Linked DNA regions of Homo sapiens: all the other regions are reported to be linked to region 7. Evidence: microRNA targets listed by miRTarBase, many of them from high-throughput screens and not tested one by one. Region 7 holds a microRNA gene; each other region holds the end of a gene's coding sequence.
The links. The annotated mature microRNA hsa-miR-26b-5p reads UUCAAGUAAUUCAGGAUAGGU and lies in region 7 at 1,603-1,623, opposite strand. An mRNA with a match to its seed (bases 2 to 7 or 8) in the 3' UTR can be bound and repressed. Matches are read on the target gene's strand: a 7mer-m8 pairs with bases 2 to 8, a 7mer-A1 pairs with bases 2 to 7 and ends in A, and an 8mer does both.

Region 1 (4,000 bases), not on the chromosome of region 7:
CTCTGTCTTGCCCTTACTCTGCTTTCTTCAGTACAGGGACTGCAAGTATGCTGTCTTTTCAAAAATTCCAATATTTGGGTGCTGTTAACTTACAAGTCATTTGTGATGTCTGTATTTCCTCTGAATGAATGAAAACTTAGACTCATCTCTCTCTCTCTCAATAGAGCATCTCTGGCTTAAGACTAACAGACACATTCTTAAAGAGAACATATGAATATGATGACATCGCACAAGTCTGTGTGGTATCTTCTGCCATTAAAGTGGAAAGCTGAAGGAAACTTCCAATGTTAGGCTTTTCATTTAGTTTCACAGAACTGCTCTTTTTGTTACCTTTGTAAAATGATGACGTCAACAACGAAGTAAATATGTTACTTAAATTTTCTTTCCTGTAAAATGGTTAAAATATTAAATATTTGTTTTGAAGAGATCTGATTTTATCTTGTAATTTATATTTGAAATGAACATGTGTATATTTTCTACACCTATTATTTAATTTCATTTCATTTTAGATGACCATTGGACTTTGTTCTCCAAAAGCTGTGTATCTGAGACCATTTGTCCCTAGCAAGTTATCTAGAACACGAGTCAGCACACTTTTTATGTAAGGTACAAGATACTAAATATTTTAGGCTTTGCAGGCCGTAAGGTTTCTGTCACAAATACTGAACTCTGCCATCGTACTTCAAGAGCAGCCAGTAGGCAAAAAAAGTACAGTGGTGTACACAAAAAGAAGCAGTTGGACTCGGGAAGCTGAGGCAGGAGAATCACTTGAACCGGGGAGGCAGAGGTTGCAGTTAAGCCGAGATCATGCTACTGCACTCTAGCCTGAGCGACAGAGTGAGACTCTGTCTCAAAAAAAAAGAGGCAGCTGGGCAGATTTGGCCTGCAGGGTATAGTTGGCTGACCTCAATCTAGAAGATAGAGTTGTTTCTTAGAACTTTGTAATATTTTGGTTAGAAATATTTCAGTTAACTCCAGTTTTTTCCTAGCTATTCGGTCAGCAGAAAAAGTTTGCTTAAAACAAAGGGGGTAGTCCTCTTATAACCTGATATTTGTCAACACAGTATAAGCTTTCTAGTTGTTTTCAAAATTACTGTAATGGTTTGTGTCTGTATTTGTATATTATACCTACAAACATACATATCTTTCAGCTACTGAACACATCAGAATTGGTTTTACTTTTTAGGTTGTTGATTTTTTTTAATTAACTATTAACTAAGAATAATACTTATTTTCTAATTATAAGCCAAAAACCCCTGGGTTTTTTTCTCATTGATTAAGCCACTTATTTTTATAAGGTATATTTAAATAATTCCCATCTTCTGATATGATTTTAAACTCTAAATCATGTGTTACTGTTACAAAACTTTCTCTCTCCATGTAATCACACTTAGTTATGAGCAAAGCAGTGAGAAAGTTGAGGTGATAAACAACTTTGCAGCATTAATGTAACAAAAAGTTTCAGTATTTGTCAGGAAAACAAAAGCTTAGGCTGTTAAATAAAAGCTATTCTATTTTGGTAAGTTGAAATTCAAGAATGTATATATAATTTCTTAAATGTAAGAGTGCATTAAATCAAATACAAAAATTGGTTTTTCAATGCATCATTATTTATTGCCATAACAAATTGTTTGGTCCAAAATGAAAGCTATATTCAGAAGGTTTGCACCTCAAAATTGAGTAATAATTAATGAAATGTCTGTACAAAATAAAGTGCAAGCAGTGTAAAATTGAAGTCTGTCTTTGTTTCAAAATGATTAAGATTAAATGATGAAATAATATTTTATAGCCACTGCATTGGATACTTGGATTGTTTTTCAAGCATCTTCTTATGACTAAATCTTCTGTTTCATTCTGTTTTAAATCTAAAAAGTAAAATGATGGTCACTTGGAATCTGCTCTATATTTTAATTATAGTCTCTTCTGTTTATAAACAATAACTTACACATATTTTTCATAGTTTTAAGTAAAGATTAAATAATGCCATCTTAGAAAGGATCTGTTTAACCTATATTATAAAAGTTAGATACACAATTTGGTACATTAAATGAAAATGTCATTTGCATATATAGAACCTGTTCTGTTTTACACAGTATCATAATAGCTACAGCTACTACAAGAAATATGGTTAATGGAAGTCAAACATTTAGTACGATGCTTAAAGAGTTACTTTAATAATGCCCTCTTATTTTTCTAGTTAGATAGCAACTATATTTCCCAGACAAGCAAGAAAATATATGGGGCATTTTTTATAAATTTAAAAGTAGCTAGCACAATCCAACCACGCAACTTTTTTTGAAATAGCTTGCAATGCTATGATTCCAAAGTGATCAAGGTACTTGAAGAGCAAAAATGGCTTGAATAGAATGGAAATGTAGGCAAGTGGACAGATAGCATCTAGATTGAATTTGTTACAGGTGGTATATTAGCAAAGAAATAGAAAAATGAAATGGAAGAAATATACCAATTCCCATTATTTCATGTAAAAAGAATGGCTAATTTAACTACAGATGTTAGCACATGAAGACATTGTTTTAAAGTTTTTTTTCTTATAGTATCTTTGTCTGGGTAATACTGGTCAAATAAAATGAGTTGGGAAGTATTTCCTCCTCTTCTGTTTCCTGGAAGAGATTGTTTAGAATTGATATTATTTCTCCCTTAAGTGTTTGGTAAAATTCATCACGGAAGTTATCTGGGCCTGTAGTTTTCTTTACTGGAAGGTTTTTAACTTAACCACAAACTCAATTTCCTTAATAAATATGGTTCTGTTTAGGTTATCTGTTTCTACAGTGAGCTTTCTAGTTTGTATCCTATAGGGAATCTGTTTCATCTAAGTTGTTAAATATACAATCCTTGAGTTGGTCATGGTGTTTTCTAGTTAGCCTTTTAATAACTATAGTGTCTGTAGTGTATTCCCTTTCATTTCTGACACTGAATTTGTATCTTCTGTTTTTCTAGGCAGTCAGCTAGAAGCTTATCTTATTGCTCTAAAAGCATTTTTAATGCACTCAAGATAGTTATGCTAGAAACTTTAACTTCTTATTCAACACTGAATATGAGTGACTAATTTTTAATTAAGGATCTATTTTGCTTTTTATATCACAGTAATGACTTCTATGTGTTAGTAGTAGTACTTCGTTCTGTGTAATACTGGAATACTAGGAGTTCATTCTAACTTAATGAAAATCAAAGTTGGCTTAGATGGAATATGAATTTAACTTCTGAGGGCCGAAGACTTAAATTGTGCTCTTTTTAAATTCTGCAGAACTATATATCTTCATACAGATCTTCGTTGTAGCTTTGTTTGGCCCAGGTGCTTAGGTGTTTGCAGGTCTGAGAAACCTCTAACCTAGTGTTCCTCTAAATTAGAGTCCTTGGATCTGTATCAAAACCACCTAGTGTACTGTTTAAAAATGGCCATTCCTAGGCCTTATTACAGGACCTACTGTATCAGAATTGAACACGTGGCCCTGAATCTGCATCTTTAATGAATTATCCAGGTGATTCTTACAATGAAGTTATAGAACTACTGTTCTAATGTCACAAAGGAGAAAGAGAAAAGTTGGATTTTAAACTTCAAGATACAAAATAATTAGTCTCTTAGTCTCTTTTTCTTTTTTTTTTTTTTTTTGAAATGGAGTCTTGCTCTGTCACCCAGGCTGGAGTGCAGTGGCGCAATCTTGGCTCACTGCAACCTCTGCCTCTCAGGTTCGAGCAATTCTCATGCTTCAGCCTCCCAAGTAGCTGGGACTACGGGTGCCCGCCACCAAGCCAGGCTAATTTTTGTATTTTCAGTAGAGGTGGGTTTCACCATGTTGGCCAGGCTGGTCTCAAACTCCTGACCTCAGGTGATCCCCCCTGCCTTGGCCTCCCAAAGTGCTGGGATTACAGGCATGAGCCACAGCGCCCGGCCAATTAGTCTTTTGATAAGGGTTCTATAAGGCCTAATCATCTGCATTATTACTCATTTAATTGTATATTACTTCCTGGCCAGGCACAG
Region 2 (4,000 bases), not on the chromosome of region 7:
TACTGGGGAAGCTGAGGTGGAAATATCACTCGAGCCCAGGAGTTTGAGGCTGCAAGTGAGCTATGATTGTGCCACTGCACTCCAGCCTGTGCCACAGACTGAGAATCTGTCTCTAAAAAAACTCGTTCTTAAAAAAGAGGTATCGCAGTTCCAATTCTAAGCTGGGTGATAACAAGTGAAAAACAGAATATATAAATTAAGCTTACAGTGGACACAGAAAGTGGCTTCCATTGTCTTAAAACGAAACTGATAGTTTCTAATGTCGTTGGTTACCTTGAGATGAAAATGGAATGATATTCAGTAAGGAAATGTACAGAATAACAGCTAAAAATGAAAGGCATTCATACCAATTTTGAAAAAAGTATGATAGTGAACAAGTACAGCAAGGCAAAAATTCCAGCATGTAGAGGGTATAGCAATTTTGCATTGATTTGTACATCTTAACAACCTTAAGCTGTACAAATAGAACAATAATATCTAAATGGTGTGATGATCAGCCCACAGTACACATCATTGATGAGAATTTCACTGGTCTCAACCTTTCTCATGCTGAGTCCTGGCTTTGTAAAATGACTTATAAAGGTCCAAGGATTTAGAGATGATTAAGAGATAAGCTGGCATTCTGTAAAGGCACCATCGTCTATCCCCTGTCTTATCTAGATAAAGAATGTAGTGCTAAATCTTGTAATAATATTGTACAAATGGAAATTCAATCTTAAGGATTATTTTTTCCATATTGTTGTATTTCATTGTGGTGTATTGGAAAGTGATCTGGACTTTGAGTGAGAAGATGTGATTTGGACCATGGCACTTAAAAACTCTATAACCTCAGGCAAGTCTTTTAATCTTCTCTGAGCCTCAGTTTTCCTCATTTTTCAAATATAGAGAGTATAACATTTATCTCATAAGACAAGTTGTAGTAAATTACTGTTTTACAAATGTAAGATAACTTTTAACTGTGAGATTCCATATTCCAGTCTTACATTATTATGTTTATCTGCCACAGGGAGAAGTCCTCAGATAAAAATGTCTACCAAAAGACTGACACGTGGAGTTAATCATTTGACAGATGCAATGCTTCCACCCCCAACAAATATACTTTCTTAACTTCTGTTTGTTATCACTTAGGGAAAAAAGGCAGTCAACAAATATATTTCATTCTATCTAGGAAAAATGTAGCCAAATCTTTTTTCCCATTAACAAATAATGTAAGCCTTAATATTCAAGGGTAATAAAAAATACAAGTCTTCCAAACAGTTAACTTACTGAAAACTTTTTTAAAATCAACATTTGCTAAATTCAGAAACAGATAGTAGGTACTTTATTTATATATATATAAAATTACTGTCAATTTTATATATATATAATTTTACATAAAAATATAATTTTATATGTATGTAAAATTGACAGTAATTTTTTGCAGAAAATTCACAATCCAGTTTTTTGATTCCACACTGCACATCCCACCCCCTCAAGACCAGAGAACACAGGGTCTAGGCTAACACATCAAAAGCAGCTCTGGAGACTTAATTCCATTGTGGTAATACAGCCTTCTTACTCTGGCAGAAGCTCCATACCGTTCAGCAACCCACTGAACGTAGGGAAGGAATGGGAAGCTCCTGTGTTCCAAAAGAGTTCTGAACTGGCTCTTCATCTGTCCCTTAGCCCCTGCATTCTAGTTTTATTGTTCTTCTCCCCCCAGATTGACTATCCATGTTCTGGTCATTCCTCATTGTTAAATGTGGTTAACACTTTACATAGGCCTCTCTGTGGAGGCTGTGTAGAAAATTGGCCTGAGCACTAGGAGACTGGACTGCTGTTGCCCCATGAAATGACAGATCTAAAAAGCTTCCATTCCCAGAGATGTTTTCCTACTCTCAATAAAGGCCTAGATTTCTTTAGGCCTTTTTAGAAGACCACTTGTTTTAGACTCAAAGACTTTTCTGGGTTTAGCAATCTTCTATTACAGAGAAGAGAGCCCCAGGACTTTTGGCTAAAGAATTCTAGCTAAGGGCCACAATGTACTTCTCGCTAGCATTCTCATAGAACACATGTGAATGTAGAGTAGAGATTAAAAAGAATGACTCAGTGAGTTACACTACCCACAAGGTCAATGGGCCGGAATGAAAATTCAACCACTGGCCTATCTGTGCTTAGTGAACAACCCAGACCTTTTTTCCCGTTTGCACCTTTTTTGGATACCAAATGAAATCTGAGCAGCTGCCCCTTACCCACCCACATAAGTGATGTGAGACAGGTGACATTATGTAACCACTGGGTCTTCCTGACTTCCTCTCCAGTTTAAGAACAGGAAGAGCAGTGCACAAATATGTTCTGTCGAGCTGAGGATATCGGAACTTAACCGGCTTCCACTTGGACAGAATACATTTGTTCCAGAACACTGTGTACATTCTGGGTTTTCCAAATATGAGAAACAGATGGAGTCATTAATTCAAGATAAATAAAAAAAACAAAACAAACAGCAAGCCATTATTTGCTACCTGTTCAGATATTTCACAGGAAGGGAAAAGGAACAAACAAGCTTTTGATATACCCTCGGTCTCCAGTAACCACCAGTGACCAAATCCAAAGTTCTCTTCATGTGACCTTTCTAGCATTTTAGTTGACAAGCCCCTCTTGGAAACTTCATACCCTGGATTTTGTAACATGGCATTCTTACACCTTCCTTTTTTCTCTTAGATTATTTCTCAGTCCTGAATATACATTATCAAGTCCTGACCTTTCTCATGACATCCAGAACCAGACCTGAATACCACATTAACAGTTCACCTCACTACGTTAAAAAATCATTATCATCTGCCTCCAAATCTCTTTCTCCACCCCTTTTCCCCGACACTGTCATTGTCACAGTCACACAAGATGGAAATCTTGAAGTCATTTTGTCCTCATCCTCATCCTTCTTTATGTTATTTGGCCTACATTACTTTTCTGTTCCCACAGTTGCTGTCTTGAGTACCTTGTGTCTTTTTCTGACTATAACCGAGCCTCTTAAATTGTCTCCCGGTATCTAGTCATTATCCCCCATAATACATCACTTATTGTAGGGTAGTGTCAGAATTATTTTAAGATATGCGCTGATCATGTTGCTTCTTCATTAAAATTCATTAATAGCTAATAACAAAGAGGAAGGCAAAGTTAATACATGTTCCTTCTAGAAGATACAGGTAAGCAAAATGAAGAAAATATATTCATAAATCCCAACACCCAGGTCATCAAATGTCATCAGTTTAGCCTGTACATATTTTGAACCTTGGGAATTATGTAATACATATTTTGTAAGCTGCTTATTTTTCTTTTATACATCATGAGCATATTCCTATGCAGTTAACTACATTCTACAATATATATGATTTTACACCTATGTAGTAATATCAATGTATGAATTGCCACAACTATTTTAAGTTTTATGCCATCCAGCTTTTTATGGTGTATCTTTCAGTACACCCTGTGGTTTAATACAAGACTAAGTAACTGCTGTCTGTGTTAGTTTATCCTACAAACTAAGAATGGCTTCTACAGTTCTAAATCATTGGGGGGTGGGACGTCAACAAAGAATATTTTGTGACATGAAAATTATGAAATTCAGATATCAGTGCCTATGAATAAAGTTTCATTGAAACGCAGCCAGGTTTGTTTTATGTGTTGGCTGCTTTTGCACTACGACAGTTCAGCTGAGTGGTTTCAGCAAAGACCCATGGCCCACAAAGTTTAAAATACTTAACCTTCTGGCTCTTTACAGAAAATGTGCTAACTCCCGGTTTAGCCATGCTGAACACAGCACTGAATATGTTCCCATACTTTCATACCTTTCCTCATCCAGTTTCTTCGGTCGAGGCTGCTGTCCCTGCATCTTACTTGTTCTCAGAGTTTTGCTTTTTCAGTTCTTGTAACACCGTCATCATCTCAAATATGTCACTGTATCATACTTAATCACACCCAGGTCTTTCCTTTAGCTAAAAGAAATGTAAGGGCCATGACT
Region 3 (4,097 bases), not on the chromosome of region 7:
CCATGCCACCCTCCCCACTCACCTGATTTGAGATGTCCCACCTTTTTAGGCCAAACCAACGTATAGCCTCCATGTACTGATTTATAGCTTTGCCTGTAACCTCTGCCTCCCTGCCTTTAAAAACTCTTACAGTTAAGCCACTGGGTATTTCAGATCTTAAGCATGAGCTGCCTGATTTTCCTTGCTTGCCACCCTGCGATAAATGCCTCACTTTTTCTTCTTGCAAATCCCAATGTCATTGTTTGGCCTTGCTGTGCCAGGCAGGCAGACCCAAGTTCAGTCTGGTAACAACTCCTCTAGAATACGCCATGAATTATAGCTATGTGAAGTCAATAAAACCCAAAGTTTCCAAAAGAAATACTACTATTTTAATAATTATTTTGCCTCCATGAGGAATACAAATATTTCCTATATATGATGTACTGGACTTTTACAAGGGGTATTGACAGTAATTTTATCCCATATTGATTATGGACTGTTGTGAATCCTACAGATTTCATACAGTTTAGCAAAGAAAATTATTTCATACTTATTTTCCTTCATAAATAGATGTATGTTTTGTAAATGTATTCCATATACTTGTAACCTTTATGATGCAAACTTGTAATAACTACTGAGTTACTTACAACTGAAGGAAAAAATTAAATGTTTTAATTTTGGAAGTAGTTCGGCAAATGTATTTCCAGAACATGGTAGAAAATGGGGTTTTTATCTTGAATCCACACAATGAGCTTATGGAAGACACTCCCATTTTTAAGCCAAATGGAAGAAGAACATGAAATCAGAAAAATAAATTACCCAACTTCTGTATAATGCTTTCAGGATCCTCAGTCGGGAACTCGTGGCAGACTTTTAGCAAATCTTATTAAGGAAAACAAATACATTAGGAACACACTGTAAGAATATGTACTTAAAGTGAAACTTGGGTAGTGATCTTATTACATCATCTCAATTATTGAACCCCTCTTATTTTCTTCTTCTGCTTTATTAATGTCATCAGTTATTACCATTTGAAATTACCTTGTTTTTGTATTTGTTCACTGGTTTACTGCTACCAGTAAAATGTCAGCTCCAGGAAGACAAGGACCTTGTCAGATTTGCTCACTAATACATCCCTTGTGCTTAGAAAACTACCTGGAACATAGTGGAAGCTCAATTAAAATTTGTAGAATGAATGAATGAATCCCCAGAGCATGACATTTAATGCATGAAAGAGGATCAGAAGAATTCAGCCAACCCAAGAGAAACAGGAATCTGGACCACAGCTGAATAAAACTACTATCCTCTTAACTCATTATTCTCTCCTTCCTGAAACAAAGACTTATATTTTTAAAACAGATATGTTGTGAGGAATTTATGCCACAAATGCATATTACTAACATATAGATTAGTATTTACTGTGTTATATCTAAGTATGCTCAAATTGAAAGTAGAGTAATGAACATTGCTTTCAATTATGTTATGATTTTTAAGCAATCACAATTCATTCTAAAGTTGGCTTCATAATGTCTTGAGTATTGCTGTAGGTTTTGCTGTAGATGGATACCTAGATTTTGAAAATTAAAATAGAAGGTGGAGGGCAGCAGAATATGCCACCCCAAAAGATGCCACTTTAGCATAAGGGTTATTTTGAGCTAAAGGCAACTGAGAAGAAGTAGATACAGGAAAAGTTATTTGCCTTGCCTAAACAATTTGCCTAAAAACAGAATACAAATTCACAAAGTTATCCCTCCTCCTCTCTCTACCAAGTAGGACAGAATTTGATCACTGAAGATGACTTAAGACCCTTATCATCCTGGAGATATCACCACAGGAATCTACATAACAAATTTTACAAAATAGCCTTTATCTACCATATATTTGCCTTCCTACAATTTACTGCCCTTATAAATCCAAGGTCCTTTTCCTTTGTCATTTCTTCAACCATGTATTGTTCTTTGTCGAAGATGCTATGTAAGCCAGAGTTCTAAGCCACTTCTTTGAGATTTACTCATTTTTTCCTGGGTGTCTTCTATGTGTACATGTGGTATACATGTTAACAAATGTCTGTTTTTCTCTTGTGAATCTTTTGTTTTTTGAGACGAGGACTCACTCTGTTGTCCAGACTACAGTACAGTAGCATAATCATAGTTTACTGCAGCCTCAACCTCCTGGACTCACGTGATCCTCATGCCTTATCCTCTCGAGTAGCTGGGACCACAGGCATGCGCCACCACACCTGGCTATTATTTTTAATTTTTATGTAGACCGGATATCACTATGTTGCCCAGGCTGGTCTTGAACCCCTGGCCTCAAGCGATCCTCCCACCTAAGCCTCTCAAAGTGCTGAGATTACAGATGTGAGCCACCACACCTGGCTATCCTGTATTTTATTACAAGGGATACTAGCTCAAAGCTATGAGAAGTAGAGAGAAAATTACTTTTTCCTTCCCTGCAAAGGGAATATAACTCAGTAATTAAGGTCACAGACTTCTAGCTTGAGTAGTTCTGAGTTCAAATCTACCCACCATATTTATCAGTTGTGTGTCTTTGACTAATTTTATAACATTTTTCAATGTCACTCTCCAGTAGTTCTGAGTTCAAATCTACCCACCATATTTATCAGTTATGCATCTTTGACTAATTTTATAACATTTTTGAATGTCAGTCTCGAGTAGTTCTGAGTTCAAATCTACCCACCATATTTATCAGTTATGTGTCTTTGACTAATTTTATAACATTTTTGAATCTCAGTTTCTTTATCAGGAAGTTAGGTAATGCTGTTTCATAAAAATTTTAGTACATTTAACATAAGGTAAAAAGTGCTTACTTCAGTGAGCCCAACACAAAATTAGGGCTCATTGAGGTGCAGCTATTATCATTAAGCTCTCTGCCAAAATTGCCAAGACAAACAAACAAAAAGGAATTTTACATCATTAGCTTGAAAATGGAAAAACTGTGAAACATGCTATATGAAGTAATATTGGAATGTAGTTTTAGCTTTTGATATTTAGATGTGATGTTTCAGAGTATTCAAGGGAAGGGATCTGCATTTAATCTTTATAGTGCACAATCTTGACTCTAACACTTCCTTGGCTCAGTATTGTAAAATTGTGGAAGTTCAGCTTCCTGAGTCACGCTAATTATGCTGCCACTTTCACCTATAAAAAGAGGAATGCTTTACAGAAGCGCTCAGCATTTCTATGTTGTGTACATTTTAAAACCATAAATCAGTAGAAAAAAAACTGGTATGTTTCAAAAGGTACTGAAACAACATAAATATTAAATGTAACATGTCAAATAACAAGTTAAGATTAGTGAAATACCCAAAGCTCCTCTATTGCAAGGAATACTGGATCTCTGTGTCTTGAGTGACACCCCAGAGAGGCATGTACCATGGCCATTGTCTCTTTATCTTATTTCCCCATGGCTAGAAAATGGTACTATGCCTGAATCTAATAGTCTAGTATTTTAGGGAATAATAAATTTGCTATCTAAGACAAGAATTTGGTATTTAAGATATTATAGACAGGATTGTTCTAACATATGAATGGTAATATTTTACGTACGCTCAAGGTTTTAGATGCATATAGATTTTCTAAAACATACAGAAGGAATGGAAACAAATGCATACCTAATTTTACTTATTCATCAAGACAGATATCTATTACTACAGGCACAGTTTAAAACAGAAAAGACATAAGATATAGAGCAAATATTGTCAAGATGACGATATTTTGCCAATCAGCTATTTTTGAGAAATCATCTTTTATTCTGAGGCTGTGCTTTTCATTCACAGTGAATCTAAATCTCTTCCTTTTATCTCCTGGGTGTCAGGATTTGTCACTCTTCCCATAAACAGAATTGATTCTAGGGAAAAAAAAACAAAAAAATATACTTTAGGAATTTCAGGAGAAAACAACTGACAATAATTAGTTTTTCTTAATATTTAACATGTCATTTGGTCTTTTTTCTCTGTAAGATAAATAGGCAGTGTCTAATAGCAAAGCCTTCTCCTTTGTCTCAAATTCATAATTATATCATTATTAATCATTTTCTGGTAATTTATGAGGTAAATTAACACCCACTACAGCTTGTCATGGAAAAAGCATTAATCC
Region 4 (4,097 bases), not on the chromosome of region 7:
GATTCATCTTGAAGTCAGAAAGGAGAAGAGCTAAGACCTGCACTCTCTGGAGTAGCAGTGTGCAGCTTTCAGAGTTTGGAAGATTTTAGTCAACTAAATGGGATGTTATTATCTAAAACAATATAATCTCTCACATTGTGTTTCAGATACTGGATGAAGGTTATCAGAAACATTCACTGACTATCTGAAAGCATCACAGTGGGATGTCAGCGGAGACGTGGCTGTCTCAGGAGATTGGACGGAGGTGTGCTCTTCTTTAAGAAAACCCATCACAAAACAAAGCATTCCTACAAAGGAGGCACTGAAACGATTTCCTGATTGAAGAAAGTAATCACTATTAAGTCTCCTGGAATATTGTTCTCTCGTGGTGTGTTTAATTACATTTTCATGTTTAAGAATTATATTAACCCACAACTTTCCAGAGAAGAGCTAAATATACTACTGTGAAAGACAACGTAAACCAAACTGGGTTTTAGAACGTTAATGTAGTTAAGTACCAGGCCCTGCGATGGCCCTCTCTATTTCATAGAGATATGTATCCAGTGTCTCCTGATACACTTCTCAGTTGCTTGATCCAGGTGAGAAGAAAGAAGGGCCTAGATAAAGTAAATCAACAACTCTGCTTCATATCAGCACCCAAGTATCAAAGATGTAAGATACCATGCAGGTTCCTGTCTTCAGAGTCTTCCTGTTGATCTGAGTCCCCTCTTGTACAGCAAGCACTGGGACATGTCAAAATACTGACGACTCATCACTGAGTGATCGCCAAGGCAACAGATGATACCAACAGGACAGAAAACAGCAAGCCCTGTCTTCATTCTGGAGTCAAGAATGATGGACATCACACAGCTGTCTTACAACATAGCTCCAGAACAGGAAGCAAATATCCATGGCAAATAATTAGGAGCCAATGTTCTGCCTTTGAGAAACTGGAAAAAGACCTAGAATGGAGCACCTGGCCAAACTCTCTCCACATGTCTACCATCTTCTCCACCACGTGGATTGTAAATAACGTGGTCCATTTTGTACACGGAGAAATTTGGCCTAGTTTAGTTGGTTGAGGTCAGTAGGAATCTGAGTTTGTTCCTGAGTTTTGTAAGCCTGGTCATACCCAGGTCTCTGATGACACGTATTTGACCCTATGCTAGTACAGTACCAGGTTAAATCAATCTAGCTTACTAAATGAATCCCCCTGAAAGACTACACTACACTTCAGGGACAGTCTTTGCAAACTGCCTCATTAGTAAATATCAGATTCTCCTCCACTCATGTCACTAACAATTTAAGTGTCTCCTCTCCTCGAAAACCATTATTCACCAGAGATTGCTATCGGCCAGCAATGTTTATGTTTAAAGGCAGAGAATACAATAATGTAATTATCATCTAGAAATAAATTCTCTGGCTTTAGGTAAACATTTGTACTTTCCTCCTGTTTCTGGTCTATCTTGAATTTCATCCCAATCCCACTGTTTTATTTTTCACAGGAATTCATGAGAGTAATACACGTTAATGGCTTGGAAAAAAATAAAAAGCACATAATATTAAATCTTAAATTCAAGGTACCCAAGCAATAAAACTGGCATTGGTCAGCAACACCGTTACATGTTTAACAGAAGATGTATATGGAGAGTTTCACATACACTTACCCATTTGTATGCCTATCTATGTTTACATTAATTCTGCCACCATCTAGATATTAGCACCATTTTTTTAATAGCACCATTCTGCTGAACGGATAGGTAAAGGGAGACGTGGGATATTGTGTTCCATGAGGAGTATTAAGTGTATCTGTGCATGAGTCAGAAAATATGCTGCCCATCACATGAAGGCCACATCCTTGCCTTTCTCCCTGTCAAGAATTGGTTCTGATATCTTCTTTCATTTGAAGCTTATGCCCCTCCACCCACCCACTTACCCTCTTTCTCTGGGTTCAGTTCATGTAAGTACCTTCCCTTAGAAATCACTTTGTCTAGAAATTTGCTCTGAATTTGAGACCAAGCCTACTTTGACTTCTGGTGGGAGGTAGGAACATCCAGAACAAGCATTCTAACTTTCATTTCAGTTTCTTTGGACTCCCTGATTCACCTGTTCTCCCCAAAGTAAAAGATCTTTAAGACTAACTACATATTGGGTACACTGAGGAGTAGATCCCCTTTACCTTACTTTTTAGAAATGTTTTTTCTCTAGATTAGAAGTTTGCACTATGTTCTTGTACTTAGTACAATTTACCTGGTTCTTTGAAATATTTTAATATGGAACCTCCATTTTCCAACCTGAGAAGAGGTGAGGACAGGTGGCAGCCCTAGAGCTGGTCATAGTGGTCTTTGCATATACAGCCCCTGCAGCAAGACGATGGTGGGACCTGAGCTCAGGCCTCCTGTGGGGACTGGAGGATGGGAGGAAGTCAGCCAGGAAGACACATTTTCCCTTCTGCAAAGGAGTGTGTATTTGCCAGGAAAGTGGGAAGAATAAAGGCCCACAGTTCCTTTTCTGTAATATTAAGAAATTGATTTCTGCTCATTTGCATTTTACGAGTTTTCATAGAAATGCTCTTCAAACCAGAAGTGTTTTCTGTGTAAGTGACCTAAACCCCTTAGGCTGTGTTTCTTATGCCTGTTTCCTCTTAGTCTAGTGTCCCAAGGTTGGCAGGAGACTCTAAGCAGCCCAGATATGGAGCCCTACAGGGATGGAGGAAGAGACTGAGGGATGTAACCAGCACTTCCTGCCCTAGTTGAACATGGGGTGAAGAAAGCAGTCCTCTGCCTGGATGAATTAAAGGAATGTTCCTAAAGCTCCGCTGTGACATTTTAAATAGCAGCTGCCCCAGGCAGGGAGGCAAGAAAAAAAAAAGAAAGGTATTCATCAAGATAAATTAAGAAGATTATTTGTCCCCTGGGTAAGTGTTGCCTGATACTCTTGAGGTAGTCAGGGAAATAGCTGGTCTCTTTGTTTTTATCTTTAAGGGAGAACAAAAATACAGTATTTCACAAATCTGTCTAACCTGGCACCTTTCCCAGGAGCCGATACCAGGTGCTGCCTGATTCTCCTAGCTATTTCACCTTCCTATCAGGGAGCAGCAAGTACGGCAGCCTAGGCCTCCTGTGAGGGACATTCGGTGGCTAGAGGAACACAATGGATTTTGTTTCATCATGACCCAAAGCTGAATCTGAAATATATGAAGCAAAACCTCAACGAAGCAGCTCCCAGGGCTAAAGCATGTCATGGTCAGCAGGCTGCTGCAGTCTGGTGGAAGCTGGCTTCCTTTTGGGCTTAGAGTTCTTTTGACTTTTGGAGCAACCGTTGCCTTCTTTGCCTTTGGGTGTGTGTGATGTGTGTCTGGGGACACGAGAAGCAGCACTCAGCCCTCACGGTGGGCACAGAACATTTCTTCATGGCTTTCAGTGTCTGGCAGAAACTGGCTGACAGTTTGTCCTTAGTGCAAAGTAAATCTGTGGAAGGAGAAAAAGAATAAGAAAAAAGTCCAAAGATTATCCTTTGTGGATATACAAGCACAACTTCTATTAATGTAAGACTTTATATGTCTACCAAGAAAGGAGCCATAACAATTCATAATAGGTGGTATCTACTGAATGTTTATTATGTATCAGACGCTGTGCAGAGTGTTTATGCTAAACTGAATTATCAGTCACAATTCTTCACTCCCATGTAATTGTTTTATACAGAACATTCCCTCCTTGCCATGGCTGCCTAGTGGGTGGAGAATCCTTCCCAACTACTTGCCTTTGGGTTCAGCTCTGTGACTTGCTTTAGATAATGGGATGCTAGTAGACACGATCTCTGCAGTGACTTGGAATGTGCAGGAGGACAAGCCTTCCCTGATGAGCTTCTGCTGTCACCATAAGAAGAACCTGGCTGGTGCAGCCACCAAGGGTGATAAGAGACACATGGGGCAGACCTGGACTCAACCTACAGTTAGCAGCCAAGGTCAACCAAAGCCAAGCTCAATCATGTGAACCTTGGCTGACCTATAGATGCTCAGCAAAAAATACATGACTGTGCATTATATGAAAAAGACACACACACATGCATGTTTATAGCAGCACAATTCACAATTGCAAAGATATGGAACCAACCTA
Region 5 (4,097 bases), not on the chromosome of region 7:
TGATCAATCATTAGTGTAGGCCAACCTGGGAAGAAGCTATGACCTTAGGGAAAGAGGCTCCCTTAAGCTGAGGCAACCCCTTTTAGGGAACTGATAAGTGAGAGCTCCCAGTAGCTGGAAAAGTAAGTCTTTGTGTTTCTGAAGGAAATCTAGGTGGTTCATCAAAGCATCAACCATAAGAATCAAGTGCTTCCTCAAGAATCACTTGAACCTGGGAAGAGAAGGTTACAGTGAGCTGAGACGGTGCCACTGCACTCCAGCTCTGTCTGGGTGACAGAGCGAGACTCTGACTACAAAAAAAAAAAAAAAAAAAAAAAAATCAAGTGCTTACTTAGTCTTTTCACTTTCCTATCTCACAGATACCTCAAAAGCACATTTCCAAAATTATTAATAAAACTCTTCATGCTAATCCCCACTCCCTCCCATTGCTTCTCCTTGCCATTCTTCCTATCATATTTAGATAGCCACTTAGTCAAGCCAAAACCTAGGAGTCCTCCTGAACTCTTTTCTCTGCCTCACTGTCCCCCACATCTAATCAATTATCATTATAATGATGTCACATCCTAAATATCTTATTTCAGCCTATTTTGTACCATCCTGCTGCTGCCACCGGTGTAAGTGACTACCTTATCTTTGCCAGATGACTGCCTCGTTTTCCTCAGTGATTTCTCTTTGCCCACACTTTTTGCCCTTCAGATCAGTCTCTCCATATTACAGTCAGTGATGTCTTTTAAAAATTCCCAGTAAGCATCGCATTCTATTTAGTGACTTCCAAAATCTTTAATTTGACCTACAAAGGCCTTCACAATCAGGGCTCCAACCTCTCCAAGTTTCGCATACTCCTCTCTGTCCTTCACTCCTTTCCACTCAATCCATACTGGGTTTTTATTAGCTTCTTGGAAATGTCATGTTCTTTGCTGTATTTCATGTTCTTTCTCTACATGAATTCTTATCATTTCTCCCATCCAATCTCAGCCTATATGTCACTTATATATCACTTCCTCACTGAAGACTTTTTAAACACCCAGTACTAGGCAGTATCATCTGGTGTTTACTGACAAAGATGGTGTCTTTGCTGCCATGCCTTATTTTGTAAGGATTTGCTTATATCTTTCTTCCGCTCCGAGAGACAAGCTCCACAAGAGCAGAAACAGTCTGTGTCTTATTCATTGTTTTATTTTCAGTGCTCGGTGTAATGCCTAGCATAGAGTATGAGCTTTGACTTTGCAAATGCCATTCCTTCTACTTGAAGTGTGTTTTCTAGTTTTGTAAACCTCAGATTTACTTTAACTTTTTTCCAAGAAGCTTCCTATACCACATTCATACAAAAAAAAAAAAAGGTTAAATACTACCTACTTTGTGCCACCACTTTACTTCGTACATGCTTCCACTGTTGCACTTTTCAAAATTTTTATTTCTTTAGCATGTGGAGTTTACTTTGAGCTGCACTGCCTAAATAATTTTTTATCTCCTCGCAACATATAAAAATCAGTGCATTTCACAATTAACAAATCAGAACATATGGCAATACTGGATACAATATTCCCCCATGACAATTATTCACCTTGAGCGAAGTAGTTGTCCAGGTTAAACAGTGCATGCCATCTCCAGTTCACTAGAAATATCACTAGATAAGCCACAATCATCACCCATTTTGAGTCTGCAATCACTAGTACAAGTTTATCTCTTTTACTAAGTAAGTAGTTTTTTACTTTGTGAGTTCTTTGAAATAACGAGGTGAATTTTAATCATTTTGAATCCTGTACTACCCAGCATGTTCCCTGGGATATAGCAGGTGCTCAATAATGTTATTTAATTGATAGATTGGGAAATTTATTTAAAAAGATTAATGCTTTTCTGTTGATATTTAATTTTAATTAAATTTCCATTTTTATGAGATCCACTGTGGGAACCTACTACAGGAGATTAATTAAAATAATGAATATGAACTCAAGGACAGTTCTGAAATATACATGTTTAACATTGAATGAATTAATACTTATTTAATCCACAGAGTTAGGTCAGCTGTGGCATCATTTCCAAAAGAAGCTATTTCATACCCAGCAGTAGAGAATTGTACATTGGGCATTTGAGAATATCATCGTAATGAGAAACTAAGATCTTGAGTTAGAAAAACTGAGTAGTTTCTAGAAAGGAAAACTCGTTCTAATACCAACAACCAATCCTAATCGGGGTCCTAGTATCTGGGTACTAGTGCTATTACATATGCTTATGAATGAGCTGAAATAATTAGAAGTATAACTCTCACTTCAAATGAAAAAGTGACAGTGTTGCTGTTTCATGTCTCTAACAGACCTTGATAATACTGACACTCATTTTTTGATGCTTGTAGAACTCTCTTATTTCAGATTTTGTAGTCTGCATAATTCCAAAAATTATTTGATATAAAAAAAGACTTGAAAGTGTAAAATGTAAAAATGCCAAGAGTCCTGGGAGGCCAAGGCGGGTGGATCACATGAGGTCAGGAGTTCGAGGCCAGCCTGGTCAACATGGTGAAACCTTGTCTCTACTAAAAATACAAAAAAAAAAAAAAAACCGTAGCGGGCGTGGTGGTACACGCCTGTAATCCCAGCTACTTGGAAGGCTGAGGAAGGAGAATTGCTTGAACACGGGAGGCAAAAATTGCAGTGAGCCAAGATCATGCCATTGCACTCTAGCCTGGGCGACAGAGCAAGACTCTGTCTCTAAATAAATAAATAAATAAATAAATAAAATTAAATAAAATTCCAAGGGTCATTCTTTCTTTAATTGTGTCTCTTTAACAATATTTGAGCACATGTTCAAATATGGTAGTACACCACCTCATAAACAATTTGGTTATTAACGTTGTAGCAAATATTACAGTTAATTTTAAAAGTTTTTTACATTTAGAAAGTCTGAAGGGCAGTCTCTTCTGCCTTTAATAAGGCAGATCCTCTAATACAGCATATAGTTTCTTATCTCTAGTGTGTTTGGCCCTTTAATAGTGACATAAACTTTGAATTAAGGGTAACAAAAGCCTTAATATTAATAAAGATGATGACGAATGTGAATGTGAAATTTTTGCACATACAGTATATTGAAAACAACTATATAGTCTAGTCAATGGGCATTAGGAAATGAAAATATGATGTGTAGATTAATTTGTAACAGATGGAAGACATACAAAAGAGATTAAGTTCTACATCAAATCATACAAACTAAAAATTAGACATTTATTGGTTTTCATTTATAAATAACGAAATGTTCAGCACAAATAATTTAGATTCAAATATTTAAGCAAGGAAAAACTCCGAAGTTTTTAACTTATTTCCTCAAAATTATATTTTATAAGGAATTTCATGATGTATTGAAATATGACTCCTCTTTCTGCCATTCATTTCTATGTTCTTAAGGGTTCTTGATAAGACAGAGTGCTTGAGGGGAAAAAGAGAGATTTTTGAAATAAGCATCAATTGCAGTCAGGTGTTAATTACAATCTCAGCCTTTCAATTTTTCATATAATGAGTCATTGTTTTTATTAAGTACTAATAAGAATAAATGATCTTACTTAGTAAATAATACCACCAGTTCCCTTTTAAAAATGCAATATTATTTACTACACTACTCATGATTTTTTAAATATTTTCTACGTGTTTACCTTTTTCTCTTAAAAGTGAGAAATTCATACTGTACCAAAACATTTAAATAGCATATAAAATTTTTTCCACCCTGATGCTACCACAATTAGAAATAAAAATAAAAATTTTTCCCACTATTGTGTGTCTTTTAAATATTTTTTTACTAGAGTGGTCAAAGCATCTAAAAAACTGACTTTATGTAGTTCATACAGTTCATTGTTTGCATTTTTTAAAACAGGACCACATGCACTTTGCCACTACTTATATTTTTAATATTCTTAGTTGAACAAAAAATATAATTTCCATTTTTTATATATAGTGTCTTCAAAAAGGGTTAAAATTGTGATCCTACAAAATGGTTTACATCATTTTATTATACTTTTTTAACATTTCTCTAAGAAAATTGTTAAATTATTTCCTGTAAGTAGCAGAGGATATATTTTTTAAACTGTCATATGAGGAAACACTTTAGTATGT
Region 6 (4,091 bases), not on the chromosome of region 7:
CCAATAATTTTTTTAGTGCACTTTCAATGTTATTTTGTATTGAGTATTTGTCTGACTCTTAGCATTGTAATTCAGTAGCAGACATTTCCATGGTCCTTAAAATCCTGATTCAGAGGGGAATAACCCACTGGGAAAAATGGAGCACTAAGCTGAGTCAGTAGGCAGGAACCAGAGGCAGTAATAAGAACTGTAATAGAAGATCAGATGTCAGAGAGAAGCCTCCAGACACATTAAACCAAAGAATTATACGTAGGTGCTGGTTCCCATAGCACAGCAAAGCTGGGTTCTGGAGATGTTTATTCTTATCACTTCCACAGAAAAAAAACAGGACTTCTTTCATAGACTATATGCTAACTCAGACATTTTGCACCAAGTAGAAAAACAATGGGTCATGAAATACAAACCAAAACACTAATTTCACTAGAACCAGGGGTTGATTCAAGGTACTGTAAGAATTCTCGGAATTTAACACTTTTGATATTTTTTCATTTCAGATGCTGCACAACAAACATGTCATGGTCCGTGTGGGAGGAGGCTGGGAAACTTTTGCAGGGTATTTGTTGAAACACGACCCCTGCCGAATGCTGCAGATCTCCCGTGTGGATGGCAAAACATCCCCTATCCAAAGCAAATCTCCAACTCTAAAGGACATGAATCCAGATAACTACTTGGTGGTCTCTGCCAGTTATAAGGCTAAGAAGGAAATTAAGTGAAACAAATTGGTCATGACAAGGGGACCCTCATAATGGCCTGTATCCACTTCTCCAGTATAGTCAGTTTAGTTCATATGTTCTGAAAACTGTTTTGGAGAAAGATAGACAGAAAAATGTCATCATATTGAAAAATGTTCAAAGAGTAGCACTATTTATTTTTAATGCTTCTGTAGAATATGACCTATTAAAAGAAAATCTAAACTCAAATTTAAATTATCCAAATTTTAGGCAAATTATTATTTCTCAATATGCGAACACAGTATTTAGAACACAATATTAGAAACACAATTCTAACTAAAGATAAATAAGGAGAAAACATTTAGGATTTGCAGATAAGTCAACAGAAAGTGCCTGCTTTACACTCATGAGTAAAAGCACTCCAGACATTTTTATAATTGCAAGATTTTTATGCTTTTTTTTTTTTTTTTTTACAAAATGATGATTAGTGTGATAATGTGCTGCAAAAAATATCCAACAGCACTACACATAAGTACAGAGTATTCACAATAGTAATATGTTACTGGAAAGGCCACTTCCGAAAAGTTTACATTCACTTGGAAGGCTGCCTTAAAGTATATCTCTTATCTATGACCAAATATCTGGGGTACTTTTAGAAGTTTTCAGTACACCCCCTTAGAGAATAGCTTATGAGTTATTTCACACATTCCTGAGCACATGGCTGTGTTTAGAATGATCTAGTGTAATTCATACATGAGCTGACATACGTTGATACTTTGACGAGTAAATTGTACAGTCAAATGTTCATTGATTTCATGTTATTTCAAAGCATTTTCTTATTAAAAATATATCTTTAGTTAATCCTATTTTGCTATGCTTTCTAGTAAAGTAAATTCACTGTAGCTAATGATGTTACAGACTTACGTATACCCTTGTATACCTGGGACAGGGCTGTTTTATACCAATAAACAGCAAAATATTGTCCTTACTCATTCAAGAATTAAAAGGATAAATTTTAAAAATGTTATCTGTCTCTAAATCAATGCCTCATTCTGAAATCAAGTTAATTTTCAAATGGCAACTTTCTCCAACAGTTATAAGAAGAATCAAATTAGGGCTCCCTGGCACTTCTTCACTTTGGGAGATGAGTGATGGTGGTGTTAGTTTTCCTTAGCAGAGAGTTCAGGTTTTATTATAAGTGCTGCTCTCAGTATAAAAAGGATAGAAAATTAATTTTTCATGTATTCATTTTTCAACATCAACAAAAGAATCCACCTTTCTTGCTCCAAAAAGTCAGGAAGGAAGAATATTTGTCACATGACAAATTTAGTCAAAATATACATAATGTGTTAATTGAGAAGTTCTTAAATAACATGCATGGCATAATTTTGTAGTGCTGGAAGTGATGATAATCATTTGGGGGAGAGAAAGTCAGTGAAACCTAAAAAAAATAAATCGATTAAAAAAAAAACCCTGAGATGTTGTATGAGATAGTCACCTTGGTGCAGTGAATAATTCTAATATATTTTAAAATATAATGTTGAGTGATAAAGATTAAGATCTTTAAATTACCTAATACTGACACTGAGTTTCTTTGTATAGTTAATGACAATATTTCCATCAACATTTTCTCCTGTGCCTAAATTTGTTCCATAAGCGTATTTATATCCTTAATAATATAATTCCACTGCCTGTCTCTAAAACAAAAATTAAAGATAATAGTCAACTTCATTAAAGAAGTGTAGCTTAACAAAAGTAATATTAACCTCTTTATCTTTTGCATTAGTAGTTATCTATTGCTGCATTAAATTGCCACAAACTTGGTAGCTGAATAAGCATGTTTATTATCTCACATTTCTGCAGTCATTCAACATGGTTTCAATAGGCTAAAATCAGAGTGTCACCAAGGCTGTTTTCCTTCCTGAAGAGTCTAGGGGAGCATCCATTTCCTTTCCTTTTCCATCTTCTAGAGGCCACCTGCATTCCTAAGCTCCATGATTTCCTTCCTCCATCTTCAAAATCAGCAATGTAGCATCTCTATGACCCGTCTTCTTTCTTCACATCTCTTTCTCTCATAGGTTGGAAAGGTTTTCTGCTTTTAACAATCACATGATTAGCTTGGATCTACCTGGATAATCTATTTTAAGGTCACTAACTTGAGCACATCTAAAGAATCGACTTTGCCATGTAACAACATATTCACAGCTTCCAGGGATTAGGACATGAACATGTTTGGCAGGGAGGGAAGGATTATGATACCCATACCACATCTAAGATGGTCTTTTAAGTGTCACTGAAAACATGGTCACAACTGGCACTGGAGTCTAGCTGCTAGTCAATCGGCACCAACCAGGGATGTGAAAAAAACTGAGACTATATTCAGCCTCTTACTCCTCAACTCCTTATTGAAGACTGGCCAGGACATAGACCAAGTAGGTTAATGTCACCTTATTCTCAGCTAGATGTAAGATCCAAAGAAGGACAATGGAGAGATGGGTCCAATAGCCAATGAATAAAGGATTAAAAAGTCTAAATAGTCTAGAAATCTGGTTGCAAACAGAGTGGAAACATCTCAAACCAGAAGTTCAAGTAAATAGTAAAAAGGCCACAGTGAGAAATAATATCAACACACTGAGCAGACTAGGCTGATTCTGAAATTAGGTGACTCAATGCTATCATATTCAGTGTCTCCTGATGTGGGTGGGGACAGAATAGTACCTACAGGATACCTGGTAAAAGTGCTTGAATCAGAGACATATAAGGAATGATTTCAGGAACGCTGGGAGGTGTTCATTTTTTATTGTTAAGAAATTACTTGGAGGAACTGTTAGCTGTCTTGTCTACAGATTGTTTTGTACTAGCAAAAAGAATAGAAGCAGGGAGAAAGAGTAGAAAACTCTGGATCACCAAATGTAGCTCAAAGGAAAGAGGAACTTTGTTACAAAAATGATCCAAGACACAATGCCCACCTTATAAGGTACTTGACACTTTGTCACTGAAAAGACAATATCGACTAGAGTTGACTTCCTCAAAGATGTTACCAAAAGAACATTTAAGAACACTGGGTGAGTAAACTAAATTTAAACTTGTTTGTGATTAATTAAATTTTTTCTCAGATTCCTCTCTCTGGGTCATGTTGGGGCTATCTTTGTCCTTAGGGTTTCTGAAGACCATTGACTATCTCTCAGAAAAGAGCATGAAATGAGTTTTTCTAGACATATGAAGAAGGAAACCAACCAACTACATCTCTAATGTGTAAAATATCTTCAGATTAACCATGAAGTTATGAAATCTTATAATCCTCTCATTTTGCATTTTAAGGGCCATAAGGCATCAGAAAGTTTAAATAATTTGCCTAAGGTAAAACAGGTAATGGCTCTAATTCCAATGCTTTTCTTTTCTTAAAATTCTATTTCATGA
Region 7 (4,097 bases):
GGAAGATGAGGGGGGCAGGTGGTCCTGGGTGCAGAATTTCCAGGCCAGCCCTATGTAGCCACTACTCAGATCATGCAGTTTCTGAAAACCCCTCACCCACAGTGTTCAAACTTTTTTGACAGCAATCCCCAGGAAAACACATTTATAACGTAACAATGCAAAAGCTTCACAATTCCTAACCTTATCTGTGCGAAGCACTCGGATACTTTTTTTTTTTTTTGAGGCAGGGTCTTGCTCTGTTGCCCAGGCTAGAGTGCAGTGGCACAATCTTGGCTCACCACAGCCTCTGCCTCCAGGGCTCAAGTGATACTCCTACCTCAGCCTTCTGCATAGCCGGGACTCCAGGCATGCGCCACCACGCCTGGCTAGTTTTTGTATTTTTTGTAGACATAAGGTTTCACTATGTTGCCGAGGCTGGTCTTGAACTACTGGGCTCAGCTACCTGCCCACCTCAGCTTCCCAAAGTGCTGGGATTACAGGCATGAGCCACTGCACCCGACCGGATATTTTCTATTCTATTTCATTTTGTTAAAATTCCCAATCAGAACCCACTAAATTAATTCTGTGGGCCATCAGTAGGTCACAACTGGCAATTCGAAAAATTGAAACTTTCCAAACTCCGTTGCCCTGTGGGGGCCCCTGTGCATGGCAGATGCTCTGCTTTGTGCGAGGGGAAAAGACCATATGGCTACAGGGCAGGTGGATGAGGGGAGTGGGCGGCAGGCACAGGCAATGAATGCAGGAAGGACTGGGAGGGCACCCACCCCCCAACTGGGGATCCAAGAGGCCAAGGTGGCCTGAATGGACTGACCCCTTCCTGGGTCTCAGCTCCTGTCCCAGTCCCAGTCCAGCCCGCACTCACAGCATTGTCTGGATGGAAGACATAGGAGGCAGGTGAATTGTCCAGGATGAGCACCCGCCGCAGGTCTCGACCCAACCGGCTCAGGTCCTTCACGTAGTTCCCCCGGTGGAAGACGCAGGACTCTCGAAACAGCCGGGCCCGGAAGGCCCCCCATTTGTCCAGCAGGTCAGCTACTGGGTCTGCGTACTGGGAGCAGGAGGTGGGTCATCCTGGGGCCCGCAGGTTCATTGGGCTGCATGCGGGAGGTAGGTAGGAGGGCAGGGTTGCCCCGGGACCCCTGTGGGGCTCACCTTGGCGAGGCTAGCAGTGAACAGCACACATTCAAAGAGCTCGCCCATTCGCTGCAGGAACTCATCCACGTGAGGACGCTTCAACACGTAGACCTGGGGGGCGGGCCAGTGAGGGGGCTGCGGGCCAGTGGGGCAGTGTGGGGGTGGCCGAGGGCTGGCAGGGCATGGGCCAGGGAGGCAGAGGCGCACAGGAAGGAGACTGGGCCCGCAGGCTCCGCTTGGCCAGCTACCCTGACCACTGCTGGGGAAACTGTACCCACCCCCCGCCAGAAAACGATCAAAACTTCCACTCCACTGGCCAGTCCTACCTCACGAGGTCCCTAATTCCCAATCCCTTCCCCTGCCTCAACCTCAGCCTAGTGCAGGAATCCAGGGGCAGCCCCCTCACCCCAAGGCTGCAGGGCACCGGTCCCCGAGCCAAGTAATGGAGAACAGGCTGGACAGCACACAACCTATCCTGAATTACTTGAACTGGGTCCCGGGCAGGGTGGGGCGAGGGAGCACAGCACGGGGGAGCCTAGAGGAGGAGCCCACTCTGCAGGCTTGGAGTCAGCACAAGCCCTTGAGGTTCTGTGTGACTTTGGGACAAGTCTCACACCCTCTCTGGGCCTCTGACATTCCACATGTATCCAATTCCCATCCGAGGCGCTCCGGATTGGTGGGAAGAGCCTAGGGTCTGGAGGCAGATGCCAAGCCCACCACTGCCTCTTCCTGGCCCTCACCTGGTGGACCACCCCATCAATCTCCACAGGGATGATGAAGTCCGCGTTGTTCACTGGCTGTGGGGGGAAAAGAGCTGCTGGAGTTGGAGGAGGAGCCCCAGGGCATGGGGTCCAGCACACACCTCCCTCCCAGGCCAGGGTGGGGGATGCCCCCCGAGACCCGGGCTGAGGGCTGTTGAGCAGGGCCCACCTTGAAGGAGCTGTGCACCAGGGTCTCGTCCAGGTCGATGACCACGCAGATCTTGTCTGAGTCCTGGGCCTTGGCCTCAGGGAGCAGGTATTGGACTGGGGTCTGCTGTAGGGAGGGCGGGGCTGGCTGGGGTGCCTCTCTCCGGGCCTGGTCCTTCCTCCCACGCAGGCTTCTCCCCCTAGCCGTCTCCAGAGGAACCCCAGGCCCCAGGAACAGATACTTCCCCCTTCCCAGCTTTGCCCCTGCCAGCTCTAGGGCTTGGGTAGGCCTCTTGGCTCTTTGAGACCTCTCTAAAAACCAAGGTAGGAAAAAGCTTCCACTTATGAGGGAGAATTCAGTTTCCCCACAGTGGGCAGGGCCTGGCAGGGGAGGCTGCCACCCTCCTACTCTGCACCTTTCAGGTCTGCAAGTCCATCCTGAAAAGCTCAGTCAGGAGCCCCTTCCCCTAAAGCCCTGAAGACTGAGTCCAGGTGCCCCCGTGGCCCCACCTGGCCCCCACGCACCTTAGGGATGGCGCCATTCTCCTCCACAAGCAGGGGCGCCCCGCTGTGAGCAGGCAGGGCCTCCCCATCATCCCGGCAGACACAGCAGAAGAGTGAGTGGAGGATGCCCCGGCTTCGGGGCTTCTGGGAAGCTGCTGACTTCTGGTCACCTGAAGTAGGGAGGCACAAGTTGGAGGCTCGGTGCACACTGGCCTGCAGAATCCTGCATGTGTGCCCAGGTGTGAACCCCTGAGCCAGGAGGATCTTGCCGTGGCCCCTTCATCCAGACACACGAAGGCAGCTCCTGACTTTCTCTGAAACGCCCCTGTCAGGGCTCCACAATCAACTGCAAGGCTCCTGCAGCTCCCAGACAAATAGGTCTAGCAGGTATTAAGGCGCCCACATAGGGAGTGCGTGGCCTGGAGAAGGAGGTCCTGGGGTGCTCTCTCCCTGCCTCTCACAGCCTCCATGACTGCTGCTGATCAGCCCCATTGCGGTGCCTCCTGACCCCACCTTACCTGAGCACCCCTGCTCAGGACAGCCAGGGCCTGGGACCCAGGGCAGTCCACCCCTGCCCTCCCTCCATCCTCTCCACCCCCGTGGGTACGAAGTCCTCACTGCGGCTGGGCCCAGAGGCAGGGGTGCAGTCCCGCGGCCTGGGGCCAGTGTCCAGTGGCCATCTGTTTGCCCTGCCCCGCCCAGACCTCCGACCTGGAGCCCAGCAGCCTGATTGACAGATACCCCTCCCACCCCACCCCCCTCCGGCCCCCTGCAACTAGCCTTTCCACCTTGCCCTCAGTTCCGGGGCAGCCAGACCCAGGCGAGGGTGGGCAGACCTGGGGGCAGCGTCCAGATCCTGAGGTCCACACGGGGAAAAGGAGAAGACAGACCCCCCCACCCCGGCCCAGCCACGCTGGGGGACGCAGCCTCGTCGGGGCGGCGAGGCTTTGCGGGGTGGTGCGTGCCCACTAGGCGCACGACTCTCCCCGCGGGCGCCAAGCGACTCTTGGAAGTGCCGGCCGTCCTCTCTGTGCCTCCGAGGGGGTCGGCGCCTCCACGCGTGACGCGAAGTTTGTGGGGAACGTAGCTGTGTGTTGGCGGGAGATCCCTCCAAGCCTCCCCAGCCTGCTGTCACCTCGGCGCCCCCTCCCAAGACCCTACCGGACCGCAGCCCGGGGGGGTGGGGGTGGGGGGTGGGGCGGAGTCTCAGCGGGTGGCCCATAGGCGCCCTCCTCAGCTCCCCCATCTCCCAGCCCCATTGGCGCCAATGGTGGGGGGGCGCCCATGCACCACGCAATGCCTGCCAGGAAACCCCCGAAGAGTTCCCTCTCTATTCCTGCCTCAGTTTCCTCACCTCGAGCGAACAGGAGCGCCCCAAAGGCGCCAGGCCCCGCCCCGCGTCTCTGAGCCTCCTCTGAGTTCAAACTCTCTCCCTGCTCCCTCTCGGGCTGGGAGCTTCGGGCACAGCTAAGGCGGCCGCCCGGGGCGGCGGCGGCGGCTCCCCTGGGGAAGATCCCGGCCCCTTCTCTCCTCCCACGGCGCCCCGGCTTC

Region 1: miRTarBase lists TRAPPC13 as a target of hsa-miR-26b-5p. Seed matches in the 3' UTR shown: 7mer-A1 at 767-773.
Region 2: the mRNA of TUSC3 is a reported target of hsa-miR-26b-5p. The part of its 3' UTR that is shown has no 7-base or 8-base seed match.
Region 3: the mRNA of SERPINI2 is a reported target of hsa-miR-26b-5p. The part of its 3' UTR that is shown has no 7-base or 8-base seed match.
Region 4: the mRNA of ADAMTS12 is a reported target of hsa-miR-26b-5p. The part of its 3' UTR that is shown has no 7-base or 8-base seed match.
Region 5: the mRNA of F13B is a reported target of hsa-miR-26b-5p. The part of its 3' UTR that is shown has no 7-base or 8-base seed match.
Region 6: the mRNA of GAS2 is a reported target of hsa-miR-26b-5p. The part of its 3' UTR that is shown has no 7-base or 8-base seed match.

The regions. Positions count from the first base shown.
Region 1 is chr5:65,664,340-65,668,339 of GRCh38, forward strand. It overlaps TRAPPC13 (trafficking protein particle complex subunit 13), which reads left to right. Exons shown (of 13, transcript NM_024941.4): 12 at 1-45; 13 at 165-1,894. The coding sequence ends at 272. SGTB (small glutamine rich tetratricopeptide repeat co-chaperone beta) reads right to left here. Exons shown (of 11, transcript NM_019072.3): 11 at 1,589-4,000. Among named protein-coding and RNA genes, the nearest start is that of TRAPPC13, 41 kb to the left of the region's middle.
Region 2 is chr8:15,757,024-15,761,023 of GRCh38, forward strand. TUSC3 (tumor suppressor candidate 3) reads left to right here. Exons shown (of 11, transcript NM_006765.4): 10 at 768-832. The coding sequence ends at 786. Among named protein-coding and RNA genes, the nearest start is that of TUSC3, 220 kb to the left of the region's middle.
Region 3 is chr3:167,438,337-167,442,433 of GRCh38, forward strand. SERPINI2 (serpin family I member 2) reads right to left here. Exons shown (of 9, transcript NM_006217.6): 9 at 3,597-3,849. The coding sequence ends at 3,773. Among named protein-coding and RNA genes, the nearest start is that of SERPINI2, 34 kb to the right of the region's middle.
Region 4 is chr5:33,523,918-33,528,014 of GRCh38, forward strand. ADAMTS12 (ADAM metallopeptidase with thrombospondin type 1 motif 12) reads right to left here. Exons shown (of 24, transcript NM_030955.4): 24 at 1-3,449. The coding sequence ends at 3,271. Among named protein-coding and RNA genes, the nearest start is that of TARS1, 85 kb to the left of the region's middle.
Region 5 is chr1:197,035,996-197,040,092 of GRCh38, forward strand. F13B (coagulation factor XIII B chain) reads right to left here. Exons shown (of 12, transcript NM_001994.3): 12 at 2,746-3,416. The coding sequence ends at 3,383. Among named protein-coding and RNA genes, the nearest start is that of F13B, 29 kb to the right of the region's middle.
Region 6 is chr11:22,811,304-22,815,394 of GRCh38, forward strand. GAS2 (growth arrest specific 2) reads left to right here. Exons shown (of 8, transcript NM_001143830.3): 8 at 495-1,698. The coding sequence ends at 713. Among named protein-coding and RNA genes, the nearest start is that of LINC02718, 16 kb to the right of the region's middle.
Region 7 is chr2:218,400,183-218,404,279 of GRCh38, reverse strand. It overlaps MIR26B (microRNA 26b), which reads right to left and starts at 1,634; the gene lies at 1,558-1,634. It overlaps CTDSP1 (CTD small phosphatase 1), which reads right to left. Exons shown (of 7, transcript NM_021198.3): 2 at 2,568-2,716; 3 at 2,065-2,169; 4 at 1,875-1,931; 5 at 1,153-1,245; 6 at 863-1,048. RefSeq lists a silencer at 3,965-4,097.